4 linked regions of the Homo sapiens genome follow. The protein of the gene in region 1 purifies or fractionates together with the protein of each later gene. This does not show direct contact. Each region holds a gene or a part of one and is shown in the gene's direction. Other genes may lie near its edges.

The links.
Region 2: the proteins of MAGEB10 (region 1) and NOC2L purify together in Homo sapiens (affinity purification with mass spectrometry; 2 studies listed by BioGRID and IntAct, with this or other methods). This does not show direct contact.
Region 3: the proteins of MAGEB10 (region 1) and DDX31 purify together in Homo sapiens (affinity purification with mass spectrometry; 2 studies listed by BioGRID and IntAct, with this or other methods). This does not show direct contact.
Region 4: the proteins of MAGEB10 (region 1) and NOC3L purify together in Homo sapiens (affinity purification with mass spectrometry; 2 studies listed by BioGRID and IntAct, with this or other methods). This does not show direct contact.

Annotation. Positions count from the first base shown.
Region 1 is NC_000023.11:27,814,490-27,817,989, forward strand, and holds part of MAGEB10 (melanoma-associated antigen B10), read left to right. Parts: intron 1-3,064; 5' UTR 3,065-3,213; intron 3,214-3,500.
Region 2 is NC_000001.11:956,457-960,687, reverse strand, and holds the start of NOC2L (nucleolar complex protein 2 homolog), read left to right. Parts: upstream 1-1,431; 5' UTR 1,432-1,447; coding exon 1,448-1,473; intron 1,474-1,606; coding exon 1,607-1,759; intron 1,760-3,414; coding exon 3,415-3,589; intron 3,590-3,662; coding exon 3,663-3,794; intron 3,795-4,231.
Region 3 is NC_000009.12:132,645,984-132,649,759, reverse strand, and holds part of DDX31 (ATP-dependent DNA helicase DDX31), read left to right. Parts: intron 1-1,208; coding exon 1,209-1,328; intron 1,329-1,464; coding exon 1,465-1,571; intron 1,572-2,701; coding exon 2,702-2,937; intron 2,938-3,688; coding exon 3,689-3,776. UniProt on the Homo sapiens protein: May have DNA helicase activity and RNA helicase activity. Probably have ssDNA and RNA dependent ATPase activity. Plays a role in ribosome biogenesis and TP53/p53 regulation through its interaction with NPM1.
Region 4 is NC_000010.11:94,332,726-94,336,108, reverse strand, and holds the end of NOC3L (nucleolar complex protein 3 homolog), read left to right. Parts: intron 1-1,390; coding exon 1,391-1,475; intron 1,476-1,803; coding exon 1,804-1,932; 3' UTR 1,933-2,883; downstream 2,884-3,383. UniProt on the Homo sapiens protein: May be required for adipogenesis.

The DNA of each region.
Region 1 (3,500 bases):
CTAAGCGGCATTTTTGGTTGATTTGTGTGCTGTATCATAGAGTGCTGCATATTTTCGGACATCTCTTGCTTTAAAAACAATCACAGAGATTTCAATAGGGCCTGGGGTCAAACTAATAATAGTAACAAACGCTAGTTATTAAATATGCAATAAATAATAGGCACTTTTCCCAGAGTTTTCATACATTACATACAACCCAGAAATCCTACAAGGCAAGGCTTATCAAGGTCACTTCACAAAAAGCCTGAGCCTCATAGAGCTTTGCAATTTTCCTGACTTCACGTGGTTCATTAAGTGTCAAAATTAGAACCATAGTCTGAATTTGTTTAGAACCCACACTGTTGCACTCCTTCCTGCATGAAGCACATGTCTGTCTTTTAATTCATTTCTCTTCTCACTACTGCACTGTGTCTCTAGGCAATAAAAAGAAGGAACCTGGGGCCAGTGTACTAAATCCAGATGTAATAAATAATGGAGAAAATGAGAATTGAACACCATTTGGGGACTGCCCGTGGGCCTCATTTTCGTAGGGTCCATCCACCCCTAGCTCCAGGGTTCTTTGGGAGCTGATTTTGCCCAGGTGCTGGCACCTGGGACCAGATCCAGCACTTCCCAAATTACACTGTTCTTTCCTTGAGTCAGCCCCTGTGAGTCCTTGTGCCCAAATCTGGATCCTTACCTGCTGTCCAGCTCTTCCCTGCTTCCTTCCATGAAGGCTGCACCCTGCTCCCTATGGGAAAGAAAGCCCAGAATAACTTTCCTTCCTTTCTCCTGACTTAGAGCTTTCCAACTCCCTGCAGATGTCCTCTGTTTTGTCACATCACTCACTTGGAACTTCTCTGATAACAGCCCCTTCCATGTAATTGTTTACTTTGGCAGTGAACACTACATACCTGCTCATCTGCTCTGAGTAATTCCACCACACTCAAGATTTTTTCCAAGTCTGCCTGTGAGTCAGGTCAGACTTGGAACAGAATCTAACCTTGAAAGATAACTCTGAAGTTAGAGAGGAGGTGTAGAAAGCAGATGAAGTTAGAAAGAGAGGAGAATGTAATCTGGTGACTTATTTGAGACTAGCACTGAATCCATACACTAGTGAGCTTAAGTGAATGGTGAAAATATCGAAGCCTCTGTCTCAAGTGGTGGATAAGGAAGGACCTAGGAAATAACTGTGTATCAACCATGTCCAGAAATTGGATTCCTATAAATCCTGGTGTACTAGGAGCATGTAGTAGATTTCTATGCTGACATAACAAATGCCATACAGTAAGACACTTAAAATAACATATTGATTAGATCACCCTTCTGTAGGTGAGAAGTATGGGTTGGTTCTGCTGGTTTCTTTGCTTAGGGTTACACAGGCCCAAATCAAGCTGTCAAAGCCTGGCTTCTTATTGGGACACACTGTGAAGAATCCCATTTCAGGCTTATTCAGGTCATTATATGAGGAACCCAGTTCTTTGTGGTTGTAAGAAGAGTGAGGAGTAAGTCTCCTTTCAGGCTATCAGTTGGAGCTGCCATATTTTCTCCAGGCCTGTGTCCAGTCTTTGCATGTGGGCCTCTACTTTTGAGTCAGACTTGGGACATTGAACCTGTCTCACGCTTGGAATTTCTCTAACTTCTGTCTCTGCTGCATATCTCTTCTGCCTCCAGGTGGAGAAACTTCTCTGCTTGTAAGGGCTCATCTAATTAGATTTGGCCCATGTAGGCAATCCAGTGTAATCTCTCTATTTTCAGGTCGGTTTCATAATTTTAATTATATTTGCAAAGTGCCTTTGGCCATGTAACATAACATATTCATGGGTTTCAGGAATGAGGATATGTGAATCTTCGTGGAGCAATTATTCAGTCTACCACAGAGGTAGAATATGTCTCTCTGGCAGACATGCCAGCTTTGATAAGAAAAGAAAAACCATAATTCGCCATCATTCTCCTGATTCTTGTCTGTATCTGCGCCAAGGGAAAATCCTGGTTTTTCATTGCGCCTAAGGGCACCTGTACATGTGCTCAGGTGTACATGTTCATCAGGTGGTGGGTAGCAGGACTCACAAGTTACGTTTTTAACAATACATCAAAAGAAGGAAGAAATTTTTCAGTCTCTTGAGATTATAGAGGTCATTGAAAAGGTCAGTGCAGAAAGGTGTTATTGAGTGCAGCGGGGTGAACCCTCCTTGCTGAGATTTACAGGATCGTTTTGAAAATTAGTGTGATTCTGGATTTGAAATTACCTGTCACATATAGACACTAGAAAATGTTGTTGTTTAGCAAAGATATTTGATATTCTCAGAAACTCCTCCAAGACTTAAGAAGGGTGTTTTCATAACAAATTTATAGTAGTAGCTTTTATTGAGCTTTTACTATTATAATAGTTAATTGGACAGACTGCAAGTGCTCATCCACTTTGTGTCTTGCTTTCTATCCTTGGTTCATATGGAGACTACATTGCCAGTCCACTTGTAGTTTGGAAAGGTCATGTGACTACCCCCCTTGACACTGAAATATGAACAGTAGCATGCTTTTCCCTTTCAGATCAAAGTGTTTGAGAGCCAGTCTGCCACCTCCATGCCTTCTCTTCCATGCTGAGATATGGAGCCACAGTATAGAAGCAGCATGGATCCCTGGGACACCTGACAGCAAAAAATCCCTATTAATTAATATCAAAGTTTATTTGCATAAGAGATAAACCTTTAGTGTGTTAAGCCATTGAGATTTCAGCCTTTTGCCATTACATCTCATACATACTTTATCTGTACAATACACAACTACTAATTCCATTGTTATTATTATTTAAATATTTTAATTACCAAGAAAATAGTGTATGTATTCTTGTTGCCAAAAATTCTAATACAGATAAATCAAAATTTCGCTTCCTTACTATGTCCCTCCAAAATTCAATACCTCCTCATATGTAACCACATTTTTTAAATCCTGCATGTAGTATTTTTAAATGTATTATAGGCTTTCTCTTATATACATGTGCAACAAAAATACACTGTGAGGGTTTTTTTGCTTTTGTTTGCTCCTTTTTCTTCTTAATTTTTATTTACTTATTTATTTCTTTTAGAGACGGTGCCTCGCTCTGTTGCCCAGACTGGAGTGCAGTGGTGTGATCATAACTCAGTATAGCCTAGAACTCCTGAGCTCAAGCAATCCTCCCACCTCAGCCTTTCAAGCAGCTAGGAGTACAGTTGGGAGCCACTGTACCTGGTTACTGTGAGTTTTAAATATACATTGATAACTGTTTACATATTGCTCCACAATATGCCTTAGAATTTTGATATTTCAATAACACATTTCTCTTTACTTTGAGAAGAAAGGATTTACTCAGAATGACAAGGTTCCAGGAAATGTGCCTTAACAAGAAAACCTCAATTAGTGAAGGACATCAGGAAAACTGGGCACTGGAACAATTTCCAGAATCCACGAGAGAGATCATAAGCTAAACAAAGTCCAGAGAACTCAGGGCACGGGGTAGTCAGGGATCTGTATCCAGAGTTCAG
Region 2 (4,231 bases), on another chromosome or scaffold:
GCCGGACCCACCGCCGATTCGCGGAGGACCCGCGGGCTTAACGGACGCGGAGACTGCCGGAGGGCTGCTCGGCGGTGGCGGCCCGCTCTGTGTCGCTCACTCCCGCCGCTCCCGCCCGCAGCCGCTGTTTCTCGGCGCCGCCCGCCCCGCCTCCCGAGAGGCTTCGGGGACTAGACGTTGGACGCGGATTCTTCCAGCGCTGCGCCCCGGGTCCGCCTCCTCCTCCGAGAAGCACCCCCAGACCCCGCCATCCTCCTCCTCCGGGAAGCCCCCCACCAGGCCTCGCCCTCCTCCTCCTCCGAGAAGCCCCCCTAGGCCTCGCCATCTTCCTTCTCCGAGAAGCCCCCCAGGCCCCGCCATCCTCCTCCTCTGGGAAGCCCCCGGCCTAGCCCTCCTCCTCCTCCTCCTCCGGGAAGCCCCCCTAGGTCTCGCCTTCCTTCTTCCCCGGGAAGCCCCCCACAGGCCTCGCCCTCCTGTTTCTCCGAAGAGCCCTCCTAAGCCTCGCCCTCCTCCTCCTCCAAGGAGCCCCCCTAAGCCTCGCCCTCTTCCTCCTCCGAGGAGCCCCCCAGGCCTCGCCCTCCTCCTCCCCCGGAAGCCATCCCCGCTCCCCCGACCCCCTAACTTGCTCTCCTCCGGGGAGCCCCGGGGCCCCGCGGCACCAAGAAGTCGAATGGGACCCCGAGGCCAATCCGCCCGTGTTCGCCTCACGCGCCCCCTCAGCGCCAGGGCTGGGGGAGCCGTGCCTGCGCCCCGCGGCGCCCTTGTCGCGGGGTCTGGCTGTCCAGGCCCGGGGGCCCGGGTGTCAGGCTGGTAGCGGGAAGGAAGGCGCCGGCCTCCCCACCGTCTTCGTCCCGTGCGGCGTCCCCGGGAAGAGCCGCGGTCGGCACCCAGAGGGCCATGGACGGGGAGCGCCCTGCGTGGTGTTCGTGGCGCTGGCCCGGTCTCCGCGGATCGGAGGCGAAGCCAGCCTGGCCCTCGGGTCGCCCGTCTTTTGTCGAGCTGGCGACATCAGTGCGGTTCCCACTGCCCCTCGCGTTTTCCACTGGACTCCCTGCTTTTTATTGTTGATTTGTGGGAGCTCTTTGCATAGGAGCCCCGCCGTTGCAGTCTGGCGTCCTCGCAGGCGCGTGCCTTCGGAGCGCCGGGTGGGCTGCGGGCGCGGCGGGACTCCCGGTCTTCCCCGGGGCGGACACCGGCGTCACCGCGTCCTACGGAGCCGGGCGCCGAGCGGGAGGCGCATCTGGGCCCCACCGGGGCTGCCCGCACCGAGCACGCGAACGCGCCCTCCCGCCCTGAGGCCGCCGGCGTTGCGGTCGGAGAACCATAGAGCCACTCGGCTGGGCGTGGCGCGGCGGGGCGGGGAAAGGGGCGGGGCCTGGGCGGCGGAAGTGCGCAGCCGCGCGGCATTCTGGGGCCGGAAGTGGGGTGCACGCTTCGGGTTGGTGTCATGGCAGCTGCGGGGAGCCGCAAGAGGTAAGCCGCGGGTCCGAGGGCCGATTTGGCCTCCCGGTGGGTGTCTGTATCCAAGGGGGCTTTTCTTGCTCCTCTCAGCGGGGCTGGGGCGAGCTGGGCGTGCGGGCAGCTGTGACTCCTGCGTGACCCGCAGGCGCCTGGCGGAGCTGACGGTGGACGAGTTCCTAGCTTCGGGCTTTGACTCCGAGTCCGAATCCGAGTCCGAAAATTCTCCACAAGCGGAGACACGGGAAGCACGCGAGGCTGCCCGGAGTCCGGATAAGCCGGGCGGGAGCCCCTCGGCCAGGTTAGTGGGGACATGCGTGAGCAGAACCTCTTGCTCGTCCTGTCCCACCCCGGTTGGGTTGCTGACCTCGCCTGGGGTCTCAGGGCCAAGGCCTAAGGATCGCCGACCTCTGCCCCCCAGTCCTTTCAGCTTAACTTACTCTTTCATCCGATGTTTACTGAGCTCCTGTTCCGTGCCAAACTCTGTCCTAGGCAGGGAGCGTATGTTGGTGAGTTGTGCAAAAATCTCTTCCCGATCTAGGAGAACTCTCACGTTCTTGGGTGAAATCACCGCCTGCAGTTCGGTAGAAGAGAGATAAGTGCTGGGGAGGGAAAGGAAGGACAGAGGGGCTGAAGAGAGAGTTGCAGGGGAGCCGAGTTGCTCTGTTAGAAGGAGCGGAGGCTGTGCTCGGTGGCTCACGCCTGTAATGCCAGCACTTTGGGAGGCCGAGGCGGGCAGATTACCTGAGGTCAGGAATTCGAGACCAGCCTGACCAACACGGAAAAATCATGTCTCTACTAAAAATATAAAAATTAGCCGGGCGTGGTGGGCACCTGTAATCCCAACTACTCGGGAGGCTGAGGCAGGAGAATCGCTTGAACTTGGGAGGCGGAGGTTGCAGTGAGCCGAGATGGCACCATTGCATTCCAGCCTGGGTGAGAGAGTGAGACTCCATCTCAAAAAGAAAAAGAAAGAAATCAAAAGATACAAAAATTAGCCTGGCGTGGTGACACACACCTGTCGTCCCAGCTACTCGGGAGGCTGAGGCAGGAGAATCGCTTGAACCCGGGAGGCGGAGGTTGCGGTGAGTGGAGATTGCGCCACTGCACTCCAGCCTGGGCGACAGAGTGAGATTCCGCCTCAGGAGAAAAAAAAAAAAAAAAAAAAGCGGAGGTGGTTGTTTGAGAAGATGACGTCTGAATAAAGACCTCGAACAAGGAGGCCACACAGACAGTAGGGGAAACGTGTCTTAGGATTTCAGGCAGCAGAAAACAGCAAAAGCCTTGCAGTGGGAGCATTTGGGGAGAGTACAGAGGTAAACGTGGCTACGGCAGGAGTGAGGGGGTGAATAGGGGTAGATGAGCCCAGAAGGGTGATGAAGAGCCAGGTGCCGTAGACCGTCATAAGATTGCCTCGTAAAACAGGGAGTTACTTCTGGGTTTGAGCGGTGGAGTGCCTTGTAGGTGACAAGGGTGGAAACAGAGAGACCTTTAGGTTAACTGAGAATTGAACTATGTGGTGGTTTGAGAGGAGGCACGAACGGTTTTGAAGGTGTTGCTGATGAGATCTGATGACAAGTTGCGTGCTGGGTATTAGAGACAGAGATTTGCCTTTAGTCTGAGCCTCTGGAAGGGTGAAGCCACCATCAGGCAAAAGTAGCGCAGGGCACAGGCACAGCAAGTCCAGGGAAGACCGCGGCTGGGGGCCTGTGTAGCGCAGGGCGCAGGCACAGCAAGTCCAGGGAAGACCGCGGCTGGGGGGCCTGTGTAGTGTGTTTGAGGGTATGTTGTAGAGGTTGTTGGGTAGGAGACGTGAGTCTGCCAAAAACGTACCTCCTGGCAATCCTGTCTTGCTAGTTGGTAACCCTTGTGAAGGGAGTAGACTGACCCTGTAGGCCACTCCCCGCCCCCTCTACTTCCACTTCCCACTGGGGTCGCTGACTTCTGCCTCCTCAGCCGGCGTAAAGGCCGTGCCTCTGAGCACAAAGACCAGCTCTCTCGGCTGAAGGACAGAGACCCCGAGTTCTACAAGTTCCTGCAGGAGAATGACCAGAGCCTGCTAAACTTCAGCGACTCGGACAGCTCTGAGGAGGAAGAGGGGCCGTTCCACTCCCTGCCAGATGTGCTGGAGGTGAGGGCGTGGGCCAAACCAGAAGGGGGGCACTTGTCTCTACACTCTCCTTCAGCTCAGCCTTTCTGTGCAGGAAGCCAGTGAGGAGGAGGATGGAGCGGAGGAAGGAGAAGATGGGGACAGAGTCCCCAGAGGGCTGAAGGGGAAGAAGAATTCTGTTCCTGTGACCGTCGCCATGGTTGAGAGATGGAAGCAGGCAGCAAAGGTGAGCAGCAGCCAGGGGCGGGCAGCTGGGTGCCCAGGCAGAAATCTGGCCTTGCCTCACCTGAGGTGAGCAGCAGCGAGGGGCGGGCAGCTGGGTGCCCAGGCAGAGATCTGGCCTTGCCTCACCTGAGGCGCCTGAGGCTGTGCTGGTGGGAGGGGCTGTTCTCCACGCAGGGGACGCTTGGAGCCTTCTTCAGCGCAAGTGACAACACGTTGCTCCTCCTGCTTGCTTGGTTGCCCCAGGACTGTGTGTTCACTTTTGGGTAGATTCCAGGGGCTCTGTTGGCGCCCCACTCCCCAAAGTCAGTCCCGCTGTGGGTGGGACGGACTGTGCCTTTGTTGGTTGGTGGAGCTGGGGTCCTTCTGAGCCTCTCACAGTGTTTTTTTCCAGGGACAAGGATACGGAGAGCTCCAGATACCACCTGGAGGTGGCCATAG
Region 3 (3,776 bases), on another chromosome or scaffold:
CTCAAATTGTCTTCATTCTTTTGAAAACATTTTTATTGTATTATAGCTTAATAATCAGTACTCAATAATGATGCATGTAGTCTATAACTGAGGAGTAAATATGAAACCTGAAACCTCAAAGCATTGGTTAGGATTAGACTCAGCTGTGAATAACAACAATAATAACAAATAACAGTGGCACAAACAATATACAAGTTTTATTTTTCTTTCACATTTAAGAAATCTGACAGAGCCAGTCCAAGGCTGGCCTGGTGCTCCAGTGTCGGGGACCAAGCTCTTTCTGTCTTTTTGTGCCACTATGGGAGGATTCCATTTTTAAGATTACCTCATAGTCTTAGATAGTTGCAGGCACTCCAACCATTGCATCTAATTTCTTGCCAGCGGGTACAGAGATGCTCATACCTGCTCCCTCTGAAGGTGCTTGTGTGATTGGCGTGTTCCCTTTACCTTTTATCCCATTGCTAAAACAAACATGACTATACTTAACTGCAAGGGAAGCTTGAAAATATATCCAGCTAGGCTGGGTGCAGTGGCTCATGCCTGTAATCCTAGCACTTAGGGAGGCCAAGGCAGGAGGATGACTTAAGACCAGGAGTTTGAGACCAGCCTAGGCAACATAGTGAGACCCCCGTCTCTACAAAGAAAAAAAAAATGTGCTAAAAATTGGAAGCTTTTATTACGGTGGACTGACAGGAAAATGGTTGTCTGGGGAATGAGAAATTAGATTTATTGTATATAACCCATGGGACAAAGCTGAGCCCCGTTGAATGGAAGTTACATAAAGGGCTTAGCATAAGAAAAAAGTGTCCTAGCAATTGGAGCACATTGGCATGGAATCACTTGCTCAGATACTAGATTCTCTGGCACAGAAACCTTCGAGAACAGGCTAGACTACAATCTCTTTGGAAGGTTCTAGAGAGGATTTATGAGTCAGATAAAGAGCATTGGATTATGTAGTTATGATCCCTTTCAAAGTTAAAGTTTTATGATTTTAATGTAATTTCAGATCTTAACAATTGCATTTCACAGTACAGGGAAAGACTCAAGTACAGCTTTCTACCCAGTTTTTATGTTTTGTCATGATTTCAGGCTATGGCACGTTTGCACTGTACATGAAATGAGTCTGTCTATTTTGCCTTTTTCCTGTGTTTTCTACTGGCGTGGCCCTGTTTGATTTACTTTCTTTTATGATATATAATTTTAAACAGACTCCGCAAAGGAATAAATATCCTTATCTCAACTCCTGGACGCCTGGTGGATCATATAAAATCCACAAAGAACATTCATTTTAGTCGGCTGCGGTGGTTGGTGTTTGATGAAGCAGACAGGTGAGCCTCGTCCCAGGATGATAACAGGTAGAAGAGAAGGGCTGTTTCTCCTCTCCTTGTTGCAACTTCTGTAGCCCCTTAGACCACATCTGCTCTTCATATAGTTGAAAATTTCTTTTTTTTTTTACAATCACAGAATCTTGGATTTGGGTTTTGAAAAGGACATCACAGTGATACTTAATGCTGTAAATGCTGAATGCCAAAAACGACAGAATGTCTTGCTATCAGCGACACTCACAGAAGGTGAGTTGAAAAGAAGTGATGGGTCCTTCTTTGTTCTTAATGAAGAGGAAGGACCTAGATTTAACCTGGGTTGTTTGCTGCAGTGATTCTCAACCTCAGGGAGGTGGGGGCAGGGAGAGAGCTGTCCTTAGAAGACTGCCTTTTCAAACTCTATGTTCTACACTCCCAACTTCCCTCTGCAAGTCATCCAAGACAGATATGTTCCCCAGGGCATGGGGAAAGGGAGAAAGGGCAGGGATGAGGACGAGAAAAGACTGGCTGCTATTGGCTTGGTGGTTTCATGAGGTTTTTGTGCACTTGCAACCCATGGAGAGCAGGGCCCTTGCACTGAAGATGATGACCTCTTATCTGAGTGCATTTTTAATGTAATCACTCTTCCTCCTATAGAGCTATTAAACTTAAAAAATATATCAATGAAGCGCTTCTCTGTCTTCCATCCATGTGAGATGGAAATTCTTAGCTCTCTTTTTTATCACTGGGAACACGAAGGCTTGGAAAAGTTGTATCACTCTACCAGATCCACCCCACACAGTGAGTCATTGACCAGCAGTGCAGCTTTCACGTTTTTCTGTCTGGTTTCCTTGATTTACTAGGCCACATTATGATGTGCATGTACCAGATGCCATGCATGTGGTCCCTCACAGTTCCCTATGTTCTAATTTTTGAGGGATGATTCACGAAGAAGGGATTCTGTGGTCAAGAAAGTTTGAGAAATGCCCCACATCCCTCCCTTGGATATTCTCAGGGCACATTAACACAATAAAGGCCCTGAGAGGGCTGCTTATAGCAAAAACGCTTTTGTGAAACCTTTGAAATCCAAGATTTGCCATAACTTACTTGACCAAAGAACCCTTTTGGGAGGTGGGGGTGGGCGCAGTATCTGTTGCTATCTTTTGGACGCTGTTCCATAGGTGAGTGTTTATAGAATGGCTATGGAAAGATACGTTGGTAGATCTCCCTGCAACACACACGTTGGCACTAGGGCGGATCAGTGCTGGGACTTGGTGATACCCATGGGGTAACATACGTAGTCCTAACATACATGGGTGGGTGCTGTATGGGGGTACGCTTTTGTGACCAGTTTCATGGTGTGTTTGTTGTCTGCTTTGCCCTTCTTACTTTTATCCAAGGTGTAACGCGGCTAGCTGATATCAGTTTGCATGATCCAGTCAGTATTTCTGTCCTGGACAAGAGCCATGACCAGTTGAACCCAAAGGACAAAGCGGTCCAGGAGGTCTGTCCTCCACCAGCTGGCGACAAGCTGGACAGCTTTGCAATACCAGAGAGTCTCAAGCAGCATGTGACTGTGGTTCCCAGCAAACTGAGGCTTGTCTGCCTAGCGGCCTTCATCCTTCAGAAATGCAAGGTGGGACTGTGGGCTAGAGCCGACTTGATTCAGGGAAGAAAGGCCTGCTTTCTTGTGTTAAGCCATTGGGAGCAATGAGTTGAGACACCAAAAATCAGAGGTTTTCCAACTTATGTCTGCATTCCGGATGCAGACTTTGATATACATCCTTTCAGTCAGGTTTTAGGATTATGGTAAAAACTCAGAGGTCAATGATAGCCATGATGTTCAGCTTGAAATGTTCTCGATACCTTTCCTGGGACTGATATTAGGAACATCACAGGTGGCGGGAACAGCTGGATGTGAGGCAGACGTAGGGGCTTGTGCTCATGTTTCTCCAAGAGTCTTGGCATTTGTGTATTTATTTACTAGATTTCTGCGCTGACTCTGAGATGTGAGAAAATAGTAAGTGGAAGGGCTTAAGGGTGAAGGTTTTCTGCATATGTAGGGTCTCAGCCAGGTAGTGTTGCATGTGGCAAGCCCTGGGCGAATAAAGGGAACGGAGCTCCCACACAGCTGTGCTCCCAGGTGTGTTTATTTTTGTCAGATAAGGGAAACCTGTTTGAAATGATAGCTGTGTCGTTTTCCTCTCCTGCATTCTTTGTAGAGTGGAGTATCACTGTTTTTGTTTTTGTTTTTTTAAATAATTCAAAGATAGTCACCTTTATTTCCAAATGGGGGTCAGCATGACTGTATAGTTTAGAGAAATATTCGTTTTGGCGTCACCTAATCTTAAAATATGTCGGTTTTTCCTCCCTTTGTATCGATGTAGTTTGAGGAAGACCAGAAGATGGTTGTCTTTTTCTCAAGTTGCGAGCTGGTGGAGTTCCACTACAGCCTCTTCCTACAGACCCTGCTGA
Region 4 (3,383 bases), on another chromosome or scaffold:
TTTTTTGTGTGTGAAAAATCAGACCTTGGCGATGACCTTGAGCAGTAGGATATAAATAACTCCTACAAGCTTAGTGTTCTGATAATGGAACACTAGTAGGCATAAATGGGTTAATCCCATTCATGGCTTAATCACCTTTTAAAGCTTTTGCCTCTTAATACCATCACATTGACTGTTAAGTTTCCGTATCTGAATTTTGGAGGGGACACATTGAAACTATAGCACCTTACAATGTACTCATTACCCAGAATTAATATTTTGCTGTAGGTTTTTTCCGTTTGCAAGCCCATTGGTTTCTGTAATTCAGAGATCATAGTTTGGTGACCTGTGGGCCAGGCCGATTTTTCTGGCCTCAAGAGTTTGAAAAAAATTGAATTAGTTGCTGTCTTTTAAATATTGAAAGAATTCATCTGAAATTCACATTTCCCGCTTTTCTTGAAATACTGGGAGGTTTGGTGACATTGGCTTGTATTTTACATGACAGTAGTCAGTCAGTTGCTGCCTCCTCTACATGAGGCAAGAGCTCTGCAGTTTTCCATGAGCCCTTTCCTTCTGAGTAGGATGGAGATAACTTTTGGCCTTATTAAATAAAATGGCCATTTACTTTTTCTTCCCTCACACTTCTCACCTGTCCCCAGTCTTCACCCCACCAGCCTTTTTTTTTAAAAGGAAAAAAGGAGAAAACAATTCTTTGTCACTCTTCATAATGATTATTTTATGGCATGTTTTCCTTAGCAGTTTTGCTAAGGAAAGATGTTTCCTTTGTGGAGAAGGATGAGGAATGAGCTTATCCCAAAGGCTTAAGAAAGGAGACTCATAGTGGGCTTCTGGAGAGTGGGTATTGGGATGTGAGCCTAATTGCTACCTTCGTAGGCCCTTGCCTATGTGTTTTGGCGAGTGTGAACTAATTCCAAATCATTAAGGATTCATTTACACGCCATGGGTATAGACATGTATTCTGTCCTGAATGGCCTTTCCTTGTTTTTCATCCAGGCCAGTAGCTGAAGAGTTGAGCTGTGTTCTAAGTCTGTGGAGAATGACTCCATGCTTCAGTCCTCTGGCTCCCATGACTAAGATATACTTAGTTGCATTATCAGTGGGTTGGGATTTGATCACACTGAACTGGAGTTCTTCAGCTTAGCTTTCTCTCTGGAGTCTATGCCTGTATTGCTAAATGTATACCAAACCTCTCTGAGGTGGATTTAGTTGGATAATGTTGACATTACAATGGGAATTTAGAATTTGTTAAGTGACTGGATTGGTTGGTTAGTTTCAAATCTTATACCTTAATATATGGGTTAAGAATGAATCATTCTCTGAGTATAATCTAATTATTTTTGAGTTACACAGATGTGGTGGTATCTTTACATTTTTTGTGTTTGTGATTTAGATCTGCTACTGAACTTTTTGAGGCATATAGCATGGCAGAAATGACATTCAATCCTCCTGTTGAATCTTCAAACCCCAAAATAAAGGTATGGGATATTTTTCATTTTTTTAAAGGAAGAAATAGAAACCAATGTATCTCAATAACTCTAACTCCAGTTTGCTTAATTATTTTATAGGTAGTTTTTTTTTTAATGTTTAGGATTTCATCATAGGATGGATTTCTGAGGTTGAAATTCTATAGAGATGATCATGAAACTGTTCGTTCAATATAGGATATGTCCAAGACCTTACCAAGCATCTGTCATTGTGTTGCATGTGTTGGTGTCAGCTGTTGCCATTTTCAACTTGGTTCACAGGTTGGCTTTAGCTTATAGCATAAGTAACTTCTAACTCATACTTTAAATATTTTCCTAGGGTAAATTTTTACAAGGGGATTCATTTTTGAATGAAGATTTAAATCAGCTAATCAAAAGATACTCCAGTGAAGTTGCTACTGAATCGCCTCTGGATTTCACGAAATATTTGAAAACATCACTACACTAGTAGAGGAATGAAGTCAGTGGACTTTCTTGTATATTTGTGTGTGCAGATGTACATAAAGATGAGTTGTTAACTTAGGATCTTTTCTTTTTATACAAGGAAAGCTTCCTAAGAATGTCTAGGAAGAAGAGGAAGAATGACCCTTTGCATGGCACAGGGTTCTGCCCCTATTCTGAATATGTCATTCCATCAAGGAGATCAAAAGCCTTTTTTTCTCCCCAGTATTTGGAAATTACTTTCTTGATGATGCTGCCTTTTAAAAGCTTCACGTACATTATAGTTTTTTAAAAAAATCTTTGGACTGGATCTTACTGAAGTGCAGTTGCTATATTAAAATTAGGGCATAGAGCACAGAAAAATCAAGACCATGAGAAGACATTTTACCATTTAGCTACTTTTTATAACTAAATACTCTTTAAATATTTTTATTTCAATACTGTGGATGGAAATGAGAAGCATTCTAAATTTGAGTTAATATATTTTTATGAAGATATTTGAGAAAAGAAAAAAATAGCTTGTATTCAGGTTCATTGGCTTTTGCTGGATGATCCACCTAAAGAAGTTACCTAATTTGGCCTTTTAAAAAAGGTGTTAGTGTTTATTATAGCTACTTTCAAGGAAAGTTTGAATATGATTCTAGTCTCTAAAGTTCTTCACGTTTTCTGACATTCCCTGGAGGGTGACTGGGGAAGAATTGCTCCAGGGTAGAAGAACCAGGCCCAAGACTTTACCATTCTGATCTAGAGACAAAGGATACTCAATGAGGAGCTTTTTTCCCCTCTTGGAACAGGTAAAATGCTTTTTCTTATTAATATAATTATAAAACAGTATTTTATGTAACAGCTATTCCCATATTCTAGGAGTGGCCTAAGAAATGCGTGTTTCAGTGACTAGATTATAAATATTCTCTATTGTGAATAGTTGAATAAAACAGCTGTTTTTTTCTGCTTCCTATTCTTGTGATATGATAATTTTTTGAAAAAAGCACAGCAGTCCAACTAAAGAGATCTCTTACTGTTTGAAAGTCATAGCAGCCAGTTATTTTACTCTGGAGCTTAGAGTTCTTTTTTCACATGAAGTAAACGAAAGTAGAAAATTCCTTTACCATTCCAGCAGAGTGAGAGGATATGAGCTTAACAGTGTATGTCAGTCTTTTAGCATATTATATATGATTTTTAAAAGTGGTTCTGAGGTCACATTTTTTAAGGCTTGATTATTTAATGAGAAAGGTATGATTCAGCATATGAATATTTGCTTTTAGTCCACCTTTTAGGTATAAAACAAAGTCCAGGAATGTGATAAATATTTGTGTGGATAACCAAAGGGTCTAATCCCCATCAGAGCACAAGTGACCAATACATGTCACAAATTATTTATTTTCCACACATATACAAATACATTTATACTTTACTTTGGCAGCAGAAACTATACTTCTGGTGAAAAATCAGCTTAAA